Homo sapiens: one gene and its partners. The protein of the gene in region 1 purifies or fractionates together with the protein of each later gene. This does not show direct contact. Each region holds a gene or a part of one and is shown in the gene's direction. Other genes may lie near its edges.

Evidence for each region.
Region 2: the proteins of FOXA1 (region 1) and ZFP91 purify together in Homo sapiens (affinity purification with western blotting; 2 studies listed by BioGRID, with this or other methods). This does not show direct contact.
Region 3: the proteins of FOXA1 (region 1) and DIMT1 purify together in Homo sapiens (affinity purification with mass spectrometry, with the first as the bait; 2 studies listed by BioGRID). This does not show direct contact.

The regions. Positions count from the first base shown.
Region 1 is NC_000014.9:37,589,031-37,592,274, reverse strand, and holds the end of FOXA1 (hepatocyte nuclear factor 3-alpha), read left to right. Parts: coding exon 1-910; 3' UTR 911-2,723; downstream 2,724-3,244. UniProt on the Homo sapiens protein: Transcription factor that is involved in embryonic development, establishment of tissue-specific gene expression and regulation of gene expression in differentiated tissues.
Region 2 is NC_000011.10:58,582,056-58,589,101, forward strand, and holds part of ZFP91 (E3 ubiquitin-protein ligase ZFP91), read left to right. Parts: intron 1-2,800; coding exon 2,801-2,829; intron 2,830-7,046. UniProt on the Homo sapiens protein: Atypical E3 ubiquitin-protein ligase that mediates 'Lys-63'-linked ubiquitination of MAP3K14/NIK, leading to stabilize and activate MAP3K14/NIK. It thereby acts as an activator of the non-canonical NF-kappa-B2/NFKB2 pathway.
Region 3 is NC_000005.10:62,393,867-62,400,912, reverse strand, and holds part of DIMT1 (dimethyladenosine transferase), read left to right. Parts: intron 1-2,031; coding exon 2,032-2,093; intron 2,094-2,173; coding exon 2,174-2,267; intron 2,268-2,352; coding exon 2,353-2,402; exon of another isoform or gene 2,403-2,484; intron 2,485-6,305; coding exon 6,306-6,429; intron 6,430-6,865; coding exon 6,866-6,958; intron 6,959-7,046. UniProt on the Homo sapiens protein: Specifically dimethylates two adjacent adenosines in the loop of a conserved hairpin near the 3'-end of 18S rRNA in the 40S particle.

The DNA.
Region 1 (3,244 bases):
GCCGCCCTACTCGTACATCTCGCTCATCACCATGGCCATCCAGCAGGCGCCCAGCAAGATGCTCACGCTGAGCGAGATCTACCAGTGGATCATGGACCTCTTCCCCTATTACCGGCAGAACCAGCAGCGCTGGCAGAACTCCATCCGCCACTCGCTGTCCTTCAATGACTGCTTCGTCAAGGTGGCACGCTCCCCGGACAAGCCGGGCAAGGGCTCCTACTGGACGCTGCACCCGGACTCCGGCAACATGTTCGAGAACGGCTGCTACTTGCGCCGCCAGAAGCGCTTCAAGTGCGAGAAGCAGCCGGGGGCCGGCGGCGGGGGCGGGAGCGGAAGCGGGGGCAGCGGCGCCAAGGGCGGCCCTGAGAGCCGCAAGGACCCCTCTGGCGCCTCTAACCCCAGCGCCGACTCGCCCCTCCATCGGGGTGTGCACGGGAAGACCGGCCAGCTAGAGGGCGCGCCGGCCCCCGGGCCCGCCGCCAGCCCCCAGACTCTGGACCACAGTGGGGCGACGGCGACAGGGGGCGCCTCGGAGTTGAAGACTCCAGCCTCCTCAACTGCGCCCCCCATAAGCTCCGGGCCCGGGGCGCTGGCCTCTGTGCCCGCCTCTCACCCGGCACACGGCTTGGCACCCCACGAGTCCCAGCTGCACCTGAAAGGGGACCCCCACTACTCCTTCAACCACCCGTTCTCCATCAACAACCTCATGTCCTCCTCGGAGCAGCAGCATAAGCTGGACTTCAAGGCATACGAACAGGCACTGCAATACTCGCCTTACGGCTCTACGTTGCCCGCCAGCCTGCCTCTAGGCAGCGCCTCGGTGACCACCAGGAGCCCCATCGAGCCCTCAGCCCTGGAGCCGGCGTACTACCAAGGTGTGTATTCCAGACCCGTCCTAAACACTTCCTAGCTCCCGGGACTGGGGGGTTTGTCTGGCATAGCCATGCTGGTAGCAAGAGAGAAAAAATCAACAGCAAACAAAACCACACAAACCAAACCGTCAACAGCATAATAAAATCCCAACAACTATTTTTATTTCATTTTTCATGCACAACCTTTCCCCCAGTGCAAAAGACTGTTACTTTATTATTGTATTCAAAATTCATTGTGTATATTACTACAAAGACAACCCCAAACCAATTTTTTTCCTGCGAAGTTTAATGATCCACAAGTGTATATATGAAATTCTCCTCCTTCCTTGCCCCCCTCTCTTTCTTCCCTCTTTCCCCTCCAGACATTCTAGTTTGTGGAGGGTTATTTAAAAAAACAAAAAAGGAAGATGGTCAAGTTTGTAAAATATTTGTTTGTGCTTTTTCCCCCTCCTTACCTGACCCCCTACGAGTTTACAGGTCTGTGGCAATACTCTTAACCATAAGAATTGAAATGGTGAAGAAACAAGTATACACTAGAGGCTCTTAAAAGTATTGAAAGACAATACTGCTGTTATATAGCAAGACATAAACAGATTATAAACATCAGAGCCATTTGCTTCTCAGTTTACATTTCTGATACATGCAGATAGCAGATGTCTTTAAATGAAATACATGTATATTGTGTATGGACTTAATTATGCACATGCTCAGATGTGTAGACATCCTCCGTATATTTACATAACATATAGAGGTAATAGATAGGTGATATACATGATACATTCTCAAGAGTTGCTTGACCGAAAGTTACAAGGACCCCAACCCCTTTGTCCTCTCTACCCACAGATGGCCCTGGGAATCAATTCCTCAGGAATTGCCCTCAAGAACTCTGCTTCTTGCTTTGCAGAGTGCCATGGTCATGTCATTCTGAGGTCACATAACACATAAAATTAGTTTCTATGAGTGTATACCATTTAAAGAATTTTTTTTTCAGTAAAAGGGAATATTACAATGTTGGAGGAGAGATAAGTTATAGGGAGCTGGATTTCAAAACGTGGTCCAAGATTCAAAAATCCTATTGATAGTGGCCATTTTAATCATTGCCATCGTGTGCTTGTTTCATCCAGTGTTATGCACTTTCCACAGTTGGACATGGTGTTAGTATAGCCAGACGGGTTTCATTATTATTTCTCTTTGCTTTCTCAATGTTAATTTATTGCATGGTTTATTCTTTTTCTTTACAGCTGAAATTGCTTTAAATGATGGTTAAAATTACAAATTAAATTGTTAATTTTTATCAATGTGATTGTAATTAAAAATATTTTGATTTAAATAACAAAAATAATACCAGATTTTAAGCCGTGGAAAATGTTCTTGATCATTTGCAGTTAAGGACTTTAAATAAATCAAATGTTAACAAAAGAGCATTTCTGTTATTTTTTTTCACTTAACTAAATCCGAAGTGAATATTTCTGAATACGATATTTTTCAAATTCTAGAACTGAATATAAATGACAAAAATGAAAATAAAATTGTTTTGTCTGTTGTTATAATGAATGTGTAGCTAGTAAAAAGGAGTGAAAGAAATTCAAGTAAAGTGTATAAGTTGATTTAATATTCCAAGAGTTGAGATTTTTAAGATTCTTTATTCCCAGTGATGTTTACTTCATTTTTTTTTTTTTTTTTGACACCGGCTTAAGCCTTCTGTGTTTCCTTTGAGCCTTTTCACTACAAAATCAAATATTAATTTAACTACCTTTCCTCCTTCCCCAATGTATCACTTTTCTTTATCTGAGAATTCTTCCAATGAAAATAAAATATCAGCTGTGGCTGATAGAATTAAGTTGTGTCCAACGGAGACTCATGAACTCTCTTCTCATTAAAAGAGAAACGAAACTTAGCCATCAGGGTAGCTCTGGAGGAGGTGGGAGGAGGGGAGTTAATTCACTCTCGCAGGGGAAGCGTTGTACCGACAGGACATTTTAGGGTAGCCGCTATTTTGCATTTTGTGAAGATTGTTTTAAATTTTGATTCAAAAATGTCGTTCCTAAGAACTTAAAGTTGATAATTTGTTTCCTTCTAAGGAGCTTTTAAATGCAACTTCACACTCCATAGTTGCTTGGGATCACAAAATCATTAATCTCCTTTGATAGCAGGCTCACTTTCCAGTCCACCTATTTCTTTGTAAGTCTTGTTCGGATTGACATCAACAATAACAACACCAGCTCAAGCAGAGGCCTGCCTGCCTGAGCCCTTGTGTATGAACTCCATCCTCACCAGGGCTTGAACTTGGACAGCCTTTACTTTGATCGCCCCACTCCACACCGCGGACAAGATAAAAAGAGCCGTGTGAGTCGCTTAATTATCGCGTAATT
Region 2 (7,046 bases), on another chromosome or scaffold:
TCAGAGGAATGCTAAAGCATTTTAGCTTGGCAAACTTGTTTCATCAGTATCTGGGCCTGGTACTATGCTGAACTAGGTGGTAGAAAGAAAAATGAGACATGGCCCTCATCTTCAAGGACCTTGGGGTGTAAGGCAAAGATGCATTAATTAGTGGAGATATGTCAAATGTGTGTATGGTATACAGATTTTCAGTCATAAAATACATTTTAAGACTTAATTTTTTCTACATAATTTAATCCTTTAAGATATTTCAAGAGGTTTTGAGTCCAAACCCTGGTCTGGTATCTTTGACTTTGAGTCATTTCTGTTTTCCAAATGACATTTTGAAAATTTTAAAAAGGAAGGTTTATTCTGTATTACTTACTTGTTCGCGCTAGTCCTTTTTCCATATCCCAGCATTTCCCTGTATACAATCTTAGTAATCAGCTGTTTAACCTACATTTGATTTTCTTAATTAAAGTGATAGTAAAGTATACCATAGTTTAAAAGGTCAAGAAATAGATAGATTTGGATTGGTTGAAACCTCTGTTCCCATTGGAAGGCAAAATAATAGAGTGGATAAAGCATTGGACTTTAGTCAGAAAGTTTTATGTTCCAGCTTTGTACTGTGCAGTAAGTGGCCTTGAGCAAGTCACTTAACCTCTTCATTTATAATTGCTTCATTTATAATTGATATTTTATGAATTTGCGAGATGACATATTTAGCTTACAGTTTTTATAATCTGATGTTTATAACAACTTCTTTTCACAATGAACTATTTAGGGGTTATTGGGAAGAGGAAATATTTGTGGATGAAGGGGAAATAAAAATTTTTCATTGTGCTCAAGAGAAGCACAGAGTTAAATGCTAGAATCATGATAAATTGAAGCATAGAAAGCTAGTAGGAAAAATAAACCAAATTTGAAGAAAGTTTATGTATCCATACTAAGAGTAAGACTGATCATTTGCTGTATGTTAGCCAGTAAATTACAGTTATTTCAAGTGCACGTTTATATACTGTCTTTAATTTTTGAAGTAAAATCTAGTAGCATTAGTATACTAGTTTTTGCCTATGATTTTTTTCTGATTCATCCATGCGTTCTGCTAGTAGGGAATGAAATTGTCAAATTAAGACTAGGTTAAAATGTATAAGGCTTTTTTTCATTCTTACATGTAATAGCCCTTCATTTATCCTGTGCATTTCAAAACTTAAAACTTTAGGGACAAATACTTTTTAAAAATTCTAACTTCGCTGTTGAGTAACCATATTAGCTAATACTGAGTATTTTTAGATGTCTTCCTTCAGGTTCAGATTAAGGAAAGTAGTTTTATTTTCTAGTATGTGAAATTCCATTTTTGGTATATTTTCTTGCTAAAATTAAAACAGTAATAAACCTTTAGGTGACCTTTCTTGCTGTTTCCCTTTTGAAGGTCATGGATAGTGAGGATGAAGAGGTGGTAATATTCTGAATTGAAAAAACTTACAGTTCTTTGGAGAAGCCTTCAGTTGTACAAGACTGAAATCCTGTGATCAGGATCTTAATCAGTATGATGATAGAAACATTGAACCAACTTTCAAGGTTTTTGGAAAAGTTTGTTATATAATTTTTCAAAAATTTAGCAATTATTTCTGCAGTTTTTATTTAAAGATGGGATGATTAGCAGTTATGGTGTGTTAATTGGGACATTGGTAATGTGATTTAAAATAAAATTATAATACCAGTCTTTTTTAAAAAAGTATGGAACAAACAGTGATAACTATTGTTTCTAAGTAGAATAGATTTTTGTATTACACTGTGGCTTCTGTATTTGTCTGGGTATTTATTTATAACATATTGTAACATAATAGAGTCTTTACTATATTAGGTTTACTTTTGGGAGGAGCAACAACAAAAAAACTTTGTACTGTTCAGAGATACTCTGTGGTATCTATATGATAAATGTTCAGGGCCTGTTGACTTTTGAATTTTAGTAGTAAGTATAGGAAGTTCATTATACTGTCCTCACCAGTTACGTATGAGAGAAATTTTTCTGAATGAAAAACCTGGGGATATGTCTGATTTTTGTTGTTTTGGGGGTTTTTAAAAAAATCTTCAGGCTATAACAATTTTTAAGCTCTTTACTGTTGCTTTTTAATTTGTAAAGGGCAAGTTACATTTACTTGTGAGGTCCACCTATTGTCTTTTTACAAGTAGATTTTGATTTGGTCTTAACAAACAATTTTAGGGTCTTTTTAACACTTCATTGAGTTTTTATTATGAAAATTGTTAAATATACACAAAATAGGGAAAATAGTATAATGAAACCCCAGTATTGATCACCTAGCTGAGATTTTGCCATGCTTGCTATGTCCATCCTCCCTGTTTTGGCAGAAGTATTTTGGAGCACATCCCAAACATCATTTCATCTCTAGTTAGTACATTTATATAAAATAAGAACATTTTCTTATATAATCACTTAATGTAACAAAATTAGTAATATTTTCTTTGTATCAATATCTTAGTTAAAAATAGGTGTTTTGAATGATATTCTAGCTCTGTGCTGTCAGTTATGTAGCCACATGTGGCTATTTAAATTTACATTAATCAAAATTAAAAATTCAGTTTCACAATTACATGAACTGTTTCAAGTGCTCAGTAGCCACATGTGACTGCCATATTGGACAGTGCAGATATGTTTCCATCACTGCTGAAAATTCTGTAGGACAACACTAGTCTAGATGCTTTCTTTATCACTCTGGAGGTGAACCTGAAAGAGATATTTATATTTTCAGAAAATGTGCTAGATTGTTCATTAATGTTTGATTCTTATTTCTTTCAGATGCATAGAAAAAGTAACAACTGATAAAGGTAAGACTTGGTCATCCTTACCTCTAGCGTACATTACACTGATTATCTTTTAATCTGTTAGAAAGCCTCATCATTCAAATTGGTTCCCATTTAAAAGGAATTTTTATTTGGTAAAAAATTACTGGAGTTAGAAAATATTTAGACGACAGCACGTTTGGATAATAGAGTATATTGGCATTATTTAGAAACCTAATAAAGGCAAATCAGATTGTTTGATGGTAATTTATAGTAACTTTTTTAAGCCTTTTATTTTTAAATGAGGTAACAGACTGGAATGATACACAGTATACAGAGTAAAGTGAAGGCAAAAATTTTTATGCTAGTAGAAATACAGATTAAAATTACAGGGTGAAGAATGCTGAGTGTTCTAAGAATTCAGCCTGGTGAATAATTAAATTAGGTCAATATTAGGTCATTTTCCTTTAAGTTTGAGTGTTAGCACACCAGATGTATGTATTATAGTTTTCTGTTTTCCTGGATTATGACAGGAAGCTAATGTTCACTTTTTCAATAACTTTTAAAATACTTTATTCTGGCTTTGCAGATTAGGTTATTAAAATTGCCCTAACGTGTTGGACCAGTTGCTTATTCGTTTCATTTTTGTTTTTTTCTAGTTTTTGGCTGTGTTCCTTGATGTTAAATTCAAACACACAGCATCCTCCTTAAAACTGAACAAATATACTTTTAGGCACATTTCTTTTATTACGTGTGACCTTGACCCAGGCTTGACACAGCCAGTTTCCAAACTCCTAGAATCCACCTAGTATCCATAGCTTTTAAGGTCTGCTTATAGCCTGCTACTATTTCTATAAAAGAATATATGTATATGCATTTTATATATCAGTGTATGTATTACATGTACATGAGAATCTTAAGGTTTTTCTGTTCTTGATAAATAATTCTTCGAGAACGTATAAGGCAAGTTTAAAGCCTGGATTTTGTGCCATATGGAAGAATGATAGTGTAATTTAAGAACCAATAACTTGCATTGGTGGTGGCTGCTTTGTAAATAATTAGGTTTCAATGCTAAGGTTTCTTATTTCTCTGAATTTTGGAATGTGAGTCTAATATTTCATAGTATAGCAGGCAGAGGTTTTTCATACCTGGCATTTTTTTTTTTTTATTTAGAAACCTTGGCATGATTATTTTGTCTAGCAAGTTTTTTGTTCCTGTTGTTGTTACTTAGAAAATAGGTTATGTCTGCCAAAAATGGAAGGTCTCACATTTCTTATTCAGAGATCAATTTGGAGATTTTATGATGTGGAGAAAATATAGAGACAGGTAACAAGTCTAGAGCATTCTGATTAAAACAAAAAGCAACCTGCTTTTGTCAGAGCTGAAATTACCTTACGTGTCCAAAGAAATCACTATGGGTTGCCTTGAGGCGAACTTGAAGAAAGGTGGAAATTTGGAGCCCCTTTTGGAGAGAAAAGTAGATGACCTTTGGGTAGACGTCTTTTTTTTGTTTGTTGAGTAAAGACAGGGTTTAGCCAGGCTGGATTCGAGCTCCTGGCCTCAAGTGATCCGCCTGCCTCGTGTGTAAATGTTTTAAACTAGAAGTTGACTTATTGGCATGTTTTGTGGTTGTGCAGCTGTGGAGAGATTAAAACTACATTCTGGATAATTTGATCCGAAGATCAATCCCACTTTACTGTTTAAAGGCCCTGGATCTAGATATTCTCAAATGCCAATCTTCATCTCTGTTAGTTTACCCATTAAGGTAGCTGTTCAACTCTATGAACAGTAGATAGGTATATAAGAACTGTAACATTCATACAAGATGAATGAATAAAGAAATGGAGGCTCGGGTAGTCACTTTTTCCTGTTGTGTTTCGTATTTAGAATTCACCTTAATTACTTTTCTTCTGGTCATTTAACTTCTCAGTTATTCTGGTACTCTGGAATAGTCCTCATGTTCAGTCTGCTAAATTTTAACTGAAATAACTCATGTTCATTTCAGAAGTTAAGGGTTTTTCAAAACTTTAAACAGGTTTTATTTTTTAGAGGTAAGACTGGCCTTCTGTTATATTAATGCTGAAAAGATATCTTCAGGATTGTTTTTACTCTTATTTACTCAAACCATCTAGAAATTGTATGCCTTCTTTGAGTTGAAGAGAAGAACCTTTGACATACACATAAACAATATTGCACACACAGAGTAGGCAACTTTCCATTAATTTGCAAAGCTGCAAATTAAGTTGCAAAGTTGCAACTTAAAAAAAAAGTTAAGTTGCAAAGTGCTACATTCATTTTTTTCAAACTGAAATAATAAACATGAGTATTAGTTCCTGTTTTTGCTACCCTTTTTTAACCGTGATTGGTGTATAAAACAAATGGAAAGCTACTATGCTAAAATAGTGTTAATTCATTCAACAGGTAATTGTTGAGCATCCACTATGTGTCTGGCGCTATTCTAGGCACTGGATTCTACTGGTAATCAAATAAATGAAGAAGTCAAAACAGTGTAATAATGTTTGATGAAGTTGGAGCTGAGAAAGCTAAGTTTAGATGAAATGATAAGGGAAGACCTTTTGGTGGAGGTGACATTTGAGATTACACCTGAATATGCAGATAGTTAATTTGGACAAGGAACATTCCACACAAAAGTTAAAAAGGAAAAATTACTTCAAACTTGAAAGCTTAGTTTACCACTGGCAGAGGATTATCTTCATGATTGTGGAGTTTCCAAGAGTGTTAGTAGAAATCTTAAGGGATGGAGATCTAGTTCCTTTTTAACTTGGCTTTATGTTTTCATTGTTTCTCTGTTTTGAACCAGTGTTGTACTTTGATTATAAAGTAAAAGAATAGTCTACCTACACGTAATTTTTAGTTATCCCAGTGTTCATTTTAACTTATTTCACTTTCTAACCTCTGACTAGACATGTTATGAAGCCTAATTTTTTTTTCTCCCATCTGTTATGTCCTTAGTGAGGAATAATAGTTAAAACTGCCTCTCAAGATAAAACATAAAAATGGAGACCAGAATACCTTAATGTTTATTAAAGTATGTTTTAAATGTTTAATGGAATGATAATAAATACTGTAGAATCAAGTAGATGTGGGCAGTGCTTCAGTTATTAATGTTAGATAGGTTATTTATTGCAGAACTTCTCAGAAACTTTGATTTTTGAGTAATGTGCAGTGTAAATACCAAAATTTTGCAGCGATTACCTAACCTATTTGACTTATAAGACCCCCTTTTTAAAGAGCATTTCGTAAAACTGGAGTTTACAGAAAACATACTTGGAAATACTGCATGCTTGAAAATTTGATTGTATAAAACTCTGGATCTCAACCTTTTATTCAAAATCATTTTACTCTTTTCAGTTGCTCTTATGAAATAGTGATGTTTGACAGTGATTACTGTGAGTCTCTAACTTGTGTAGTCAGGAAAAAAGAAGTCAGTCATCAGATAAATTCATAACAGATCTCAGCATTTACTTAGATTATTTGGAGCTTAACTGTTAAGTATTTACCTTACCTAGTTTATCATAATCAGCATACTATCTGTAATTATTACTAAAGTATTAGTTTATTTTGATTATTTTTCCTCCTGTCTGGATGACATCCTCAGTTTTTTTCTTATATTGATACAGTCTAATTTATAGCTTATGCCTCTGTGCTCCATGTTTTAAAATTAGAATTAATTTGTTATTAACAGTTTTCATAGATTTCAACAGTTTTATTTTTCATGTATTGAAATATCTTTGATTATCGTATCCTCTCAAATCAGTCTCTTGTATCCCATTCATCTTGGCCTCTTGTCAACTTGCAACCTCAATATAACATTGACTGTTTTTACTTCCTTTACAGATGTGTCTGTTTTATAGTATACTTTTTTGTTGGTTTTTCTTTCTTTCTAGTATATTTAAAGAATATTTTTATTATTTCTAAAAATACAGAAGACACATTTTTATGCTTTTTTTCCCATTCCAGTGAGAAAAATCTAACTTGTAATTCTTACCATTTGAGTTTGTGTACAAAAGGAAGAATCGAGAAGATACTGAGAACATTGTCTTCACAATTCTTTCTTGAAAGATTTTGAATCTCCTTGCTAATGACCTAGTTTTCCCAGTCAAAATAAAATCTTTTAGGTTTTGAATAGAAAAAGAGTTCTGGAAGGAAAATCTGTAGGTGAGAAAGGGCGTGTATAAGCCCAGTCTTAACACTCAGATAGGCTTTTAAGGTTTTTTTTGTTTGTTTTTGAGACAGGGTCT
Region 3 (7,046 bases), on another chromosome or scaffold:
GTGGTGCCTGACTGTAGCCCTGGCTAGCAGGGAGGCTGAGGTGGGAGGTTTACCTGAGCCTGGGAAGTTGAGGCTCCAGTGAGCCATGATCCTGCCACTTCACTACAGCCTGGGTGACACAGTGAGACCCTGTCTCAAAAAATAAAAATAAAACTAAAGATAGATCTGGGAGCCAAACAGAGTAAGAAACACATTGTTTACCATGTAAACAGGGTCTATATAGAAGTAGGGCCAGGAGCTGTGGCCCACATCTGTAATCCCAGCACTTTGGGAGGCTGAGGCAGGAAGATTGCTTAAAGCTATGAGCTTGAGACCAGCCTGGGCAACAAAGCGAGACCCAATCTCTATAAAAAATAAAAAGGCTGGGCATGGTGCCTCCCGCCTATAATCCCAGCACTTTGGGAGGCCAAGGTGGGAGGATTGTTTGAGCCCAGGAGTTTTGAGACCAGCCCGGGCAACATAGAGAGACCCGTCTCTATTAAAAATAAAGAAAGGAAATTAGCCTGGTGTGCTGGTACACACCTGTGGTCCCAGCTGCACAGGAAGGTGAGGTGGGAGGATCCCATGAGCCCAAGACTTCGAGGCAGCAGTGAGCTATGATAGCGCCACTTCACTCCAGCCTGGGCAACAGAGTGAGACCCCATCTCTTAAAAAAAATTATTTTTTAATAAAAATAAAGTCAGTGAAACCTCAGCTGAAATTGCAATAAAATTTCAATTTCGGCCTTATTTGACATCCATTTTCATTTACTTGAGAAGTTATCTATGCCATGTATTGTGTATCTCAGTAGATGTGACATACTAACAGTAAGAGCAATTGCATTGTACGCTCTTCTCTAACAACACTGACTGCAGAGACATGTAGTGTATTTTTTTCATCATCTGTTGAATTACAAAGCATGGAGACAGATGAAACATGATTCTATTGATTATATGAGTAGAACTCTCACATAATCTGGTTGTCTACTTTTCTGGGTGGTGGTGTTTGTTTGTTTGTTTGTTTGTTTTTGAGATGGAGTCTCGCTCTGTTGCCAGGCTGGAGTGCTGTGGCGCGATCTCGGCTCACTGCAACCTCTGACTCCCTGGTTCAAACAATTCTCCTGCTTCAGCCTCCTGAGTAGCTGGGATTACAGGCACGTGCCGCCACGCCCAGATAATTTTTGAATTTGTTAGTAGAGACAGAGTTTTACCATGTTGGCCAGGCTGGTCTCAGTCTCCTGAACTCATGATCCGCCCACCTCAGCCTCACACCCGGCTTTTTTTTTTTTTTGAGATGGAGTCTCACTTTGTCACCCAGGCTGGAATGCAGTGGCACAGTCTTGGCTCATGGCAACCTCCGCCTCCAGGGTTCAAGCAATTCTCCTGCCTCAGCCTCCTGAGTAGCTGGGATTACAGGCGCCCACCACTAGGCCCAGCTAATATTTTGTGTTGTTTTTGTTTTTGTTTTGAGACAAGAGTCTCTGTCTCTTGCCCAAGCTGGAGTGCAATGGTGCGATCTCGACTCACTGCAACCTCTGCCTCCCAGTTTCAAGCAATTCTCCTGCCTCAGCCTCCCGAGTAGCTGGGATTACAGATGCCCATCACTGTACCCAGCTAAATTTGTATTTTTAGTAGAGACGGGGTTTCGCCATGTTGGCCAGGCTGGTTTCGAACTCCTGACCTCAGGTGATCTGCCTGTCTCAGCCTCCCAAAGTGTTGGGATTACAGGCGTGAGCCACTGCACCTGGCCTAATATTTTGTATTTTTAGTAGAGATGGGGTTTCACCATGTTGGCCAGGCTGGCCTTTAACTCCTGACCTCATGATTCGCCCACCCCAGCCTTCCAAAGTGCTGGGATTACAGGCGTGAGCCACTGCACCCGGCCCATTTTTGTTTGTTGTTTGAAGTATGCGAGTATAATTAAAGGAATATTGATGGTAGAAATGGGAGAAGAAGTTTGTCACATAAATCATGTAAGAGTTCCTGTTGGGATAACAATAAAAGATTTATATTCCATAATTAACCTAAATAATTTTTATTTTTTTTAAATTAGGTTGTTGCTTGTGAACTTGACCCAAGGCTAGTAGCTGAACTTCACAAAAGAGTTCAGGGCACGTGAGTATACATAATAGAATTAAAGTGCATTTCAATCTCATGAAACAACATTCTTTTTACATTTCTTCTTTTCTCATCAGGCCTGTGGCCAGCAAACTTCAAGTACTGGTGGGTGATGTGCTGAAAACAGATTTGCCATTCTTTGATACTTGTGTGGCAAATTTGCCTTATCAGGTATGTCCTCACATTTTCAGGAACATCATACTAACTGTTCCTCTGATGTGTCTTTCCCGGAAATAACTAGTTAATTCTCTTACAGATCTCTTCACCTTTTGTCTTCAAGCTGTTGCTACATCGACCTTTTTTCAGGTTTGTGACAAAAGACTAGAGTTACTGCCAAATTTTGAAAGACTTACAGTTCAGGTGGTGAACATAGCCAAAAATGAGTCAGGTCAGTTGAAAAACTACTGAAGAATTTTTGTAGAAAATGTTGATTTGTATGGAGGTCTTTCTCTCTTTAATTGAGAGGTTATTTGGGGGTAGTGTGCTGGAAGTCCTGCTTCTGAGACCAGACAGCCTTTCCCTATTTTTGAATCTTCCTGCCGTTAAGTCTAGGTTAGAATTTTTATTACCTTATGTCTAGACAATTGCAGTGGTTTCCTAACTGGTCTCTAGTATAAGAGGTCTTCAAAAAGTTCATGGAAAATGTGTATTATGAAAAAAACTTGCATGGATTTCAAAATTTTTTTGCACCAAAATAAACTCTGTACTAACTGAGCAGGATCTAGTGTGAGGCACTGAGAAGGATAAGACATCAGTTTGAAAAGAGCCCCTATCAGAGCAACATGAACTCTGCTAAAATTCAAGTAAGAACAAACATCCAATTTATGGTGAAACCTGGTTGGAAGAATGGTGAAATCATTGATGCTTTACAAAAAGTTTATGGAGTCACACCTGTAATCCCAGCACTTTGGGAGGCCAAGGCAGGCGGATCATGAGGTCAGGAGATCGAGACCATCCTGGCTAACATGGTGAAACCCCACATCTACTAAAAATACAAAAAACTAGCCGGGCGTAGTGGCGGGCGCCTGTAGTCCCAGCCACTCGGGAGGCTGAGGCAGGAGAATGGCGTGAACCCGGGAGGCGGAGCTTGCAGTGAGCCGAGATCGCGCCACTGCACTCCAGCCTTGGCGACTGAGCGAGACTCCGTCTCAAAAAAAAAAAAAAGTTTATGGGGACAATATCCCAAAGAAATCAGCAGTTTACTAATGGATAACTCATTTTAAGAAGGGCTGAGACAATGTTGAAGATGAAGCCTACAGTGGCACACTGGCCATATCAATTTGTGGGAAAACATTCATCTTGTTTGTTCCCTAAGTGACGAGGAACAACATTCAACAGCACAAACAATAGCCAACACCATAGACATCACAGTTGGTTTAGCTTACACAATTCTGACTGCAAAATCAAAGTTAAACAAACTTTGTACTTGATAGATGCCAAAACTGTCATACCCTCTTTTCTGAAAGATTTTATGAAAAAACAAAACAAAAAACATTGTACTCAAATCAGCTGCAGATAAAAGCAGAGCTTCCAGTGGAAATTTTACATAACTGGGATCAAGATCCTGAAACATGGCTGGGTGGAGTGGCTCACACCTATAATCCTAGCACTCTGGGAGGCCGAGGCGGGCAGATCACTTGAGGTCAGGAGACCAGCCTGGCTAACATGGTGAAACCCCATCTCTACTAAAAATAAAAAAATTAGCTGGGCATTGTGGTGGGCACCTATAATCCCAGCTACTCGGGAGGCTGAGGCAGGGGAATCGCTTGAACTCAGGAGGCGGAGGTTGTAGTGAGCCAAGATTGTGCCACTGCACTCCACACTCCAGCCTGGGCAACAGAGCGAGATTGTCAAAAAAGAAAACAAGATCCTGAAACATTTCTTCAAAGAATTACAAAGAATTGTAATGGAGATGAAATATGGCTTTACCAGTGTGATCCTAAAGACAAAGCAGAGTGAAAGTGATGCCTACCAAGAAACGGAGTGGCTCCAGTCAAAGCAAAAGCAGACCAGTCAAGAGCAAAGGTCATAGCAACAGTTTTTTTTTGAATGCTCAGGGCATTTTGCTTGCTGACTTTCTTTAGGACCAAAGAATGAAAACATCTGCTTATTACAAGAGTGTTTTGAGAAAGTTAGCTAAGATGTAGCAGAGTAACTCCTGGGAAAGCTTCCCCAGAGATTCCTCCACCATAATACTTCTACTCCTTCCTCTCATCAGACGAGGGCAATTTTTCGAGAGTTTCAATGGGAAATGGTTAGGTATCCACCTTACAGTCCTGATTGGGCCCCTTCTGACTTCTTTTTATTTTATGAGACAGTCTTGCTCTGGTGCCCGGGCTGGAGAGCAGTGGTATGATCTGCACTCACTGCAGCCTCCACTTCCTGGGCTCAAGCATTCCTCCCACCTCAGCCTCCCAAGTAGCTGCGATTACGGGCATGTGCCACCACACCCAGCTAATTGTTGTATTTTTTTTAGAGATGGGTCTTGCCATGTTGCCCAGGCTGTCTCCCCCTCCTGAGCTCAAGTGATCTGCCCACCTCAGCCTCCCCAAATGCTGGGATTATTACAGGCATGAACCATGGTGCCCAGCCCTTCTGATTTATTTTCGTTTCCCAGTCTTAAAAAATCTTGAAAGGGCACTCTTTTTTCTTCAGTTAATAATGTAAAAAAAAAAAACCTGCAGTGACATGGCTAAATTCCCCAGAGCCTCAGTTTTTTTGATATAGACTAAAATGCTGGTATCATCACTTACAAAAGTGTCTTGAACTTGATGGAGCTTATGTTGAATAATAAAGTTTATGTTTTTTCTTTTTTTTCTTTTTCTGAGACAGGCTGGAGTACAGTGGTGACATCTCAGGTCACTGCAACCTCAGCCTCCCTGGGCTGGGCTCAGATGATTCTCCTACCTCAGCCTCTTGAGTAGCTGGGACTATGGGGGTGTACCAGCATGCCTAGCTAATTTTTGTGTTTTTTTTAGAGAAGGGGTCTCACCATGTTCAGCCCAGGCTGGTCTTGAACTCCTGAGCTCAAGCGATCTGTCCGCCTTGGCCTCCTAAAGTGCTGTGGATTATAGGTGTGTGCCGCCACACCAGCCTTATTTTATCTTTTAATTCAATATTTCCATGAACTTTGAAGTCACTTTCTATATTATATACTAGTGGCTTTCAAACTGCAAGTCAAAAACTAGTGGTTATAAAATTAATGAGTCATGACCATTCTTTTTTTTTGTAATCACATGGAATAGAATATATCACAGGGCATTGCATGTAGTCCAGGTGATTATGGTTTCATGAAACTTTTGTTTTGAAATACAATATAAACACATATACATACAGACATTTGTGGCTTGGCTTGCAATGCCAAATGTATTTTTAGTGTGACTCATTGTCAAAAGTTTGAATGTCAAAGTGTAGCTTTGAAGATACTCTTCTGTTCGTTAACCCCTACAAAGTCTTCCCCATTGCCTGCTGAATAAAAAGTCTACATCTTTTGGCTGGGTGTGGTGACTCATGCCTGTAATCCCAGCACTTTGGGAGGCTGAGGTGGGCGGATCACCTGAGGTCAGGAGTTCCAGACCAGCCTGGCCAACATGGTGAAACACTGTCTCTACTAAAAATAGAAAAATTGGCCAGGGGTGGTAGTGTGCGCCTGTAATCCCAGCTACTCGGGAGGCTGAGGAACGAGGATCACTTGAACCTGGGAGACGGAAGTTGTAGTGAGCCGAGATTGCGCCATTGCACTCCAGCCTGGGCGACAAGAGCGAAACTCCGTCTCAAAAAAAAAAAAAAAGTCTACATCTTTTAACCCGTCAAATCAAGGAAACATTGAACGTCACAATCTGCCTCTTCAGTCTCACCTCTTCCTTAAAGGTGTTTGCTACCCCATAAATATATTACTGCTACTGAAACAATTTTATTTCACTTTGTTTTCATAGAAGAGGTGATGGACTAGTGCTGATTTGAAACATCTCATCCAGTCATTAAAGGCTTATATTTGCAAGCTATCTTGCCATGAGGAGTACAGCAATTATAAAAACAAAGCCAGCTCTCTCATTCTGTGGCAATAAAAAAAAGGCTGAATGTGTTCTCCTACCTTATAATCAGCTGCCAATGCTTTGCTATTTCTCTCCCAAGAAAATTCATTGCAGTTAAAATTCATTTATAGTTGACAATGACCATTTTCCTTATTCCTTTCTGCTTTCTTTTCAGGTGTGCTATACTTATGTTTCAAAGAGAATTTGCCCTCCGACTGGTTGCAAAACCTGGAGATAAGTTATACTGCAGACTCTCAATTAATACACAGCTGTTGGCACGTGTGGACCATCTAATGAAAGTAAGTGAATTTTGTTTTCTTTCTCTTTTTTCTGAGATAGAATCTCACTCTGTCACCCAGGCTGCAGTGCAGTGGCTCACTGCGATCTCTGCCTCCCATACTCAAGCAATCTTCTCGAGTCCCGAGTAGCTGGGACTAGAGGTGTGCGTCACCACGCCTGACTAATTTTTTGGTATTTTTTGTAGACACAGAGTTTTGCTATGTTGCCCAGGTTGGTCTTGAACTCCTGGGCTCAATGATCCATCTGCCTTGGCCTCCCAAAGTGTTGGGATTACAGGTGTGAGCCAAAGCACCCAGCCAGTGATTTTTATTATTGAAATAATCTAGCTTAATTCATCCTTGAGCATCCAGTTGTGCCTTCTGTGAGGATAGCATATCTGGTTACTAAATAAAAGTTGCCTTTGTGAGTACTACTTAAATACTTTTTCATTAACAGGTGGGAAAGAATAACTTCAGACCACCGCCCAAGGTGGAATCCAGTGTTGTAAGGATAGAACCTAAGAATCCACCACCACCCATCAATTTTCAGGTGAGGTTAAAATACTAGCTCATTCAATAAAGGAAAAAAAAGTCCAGGCGGGAAGATGTGTGCCTATAACAGCAGAAAAATATTGAAT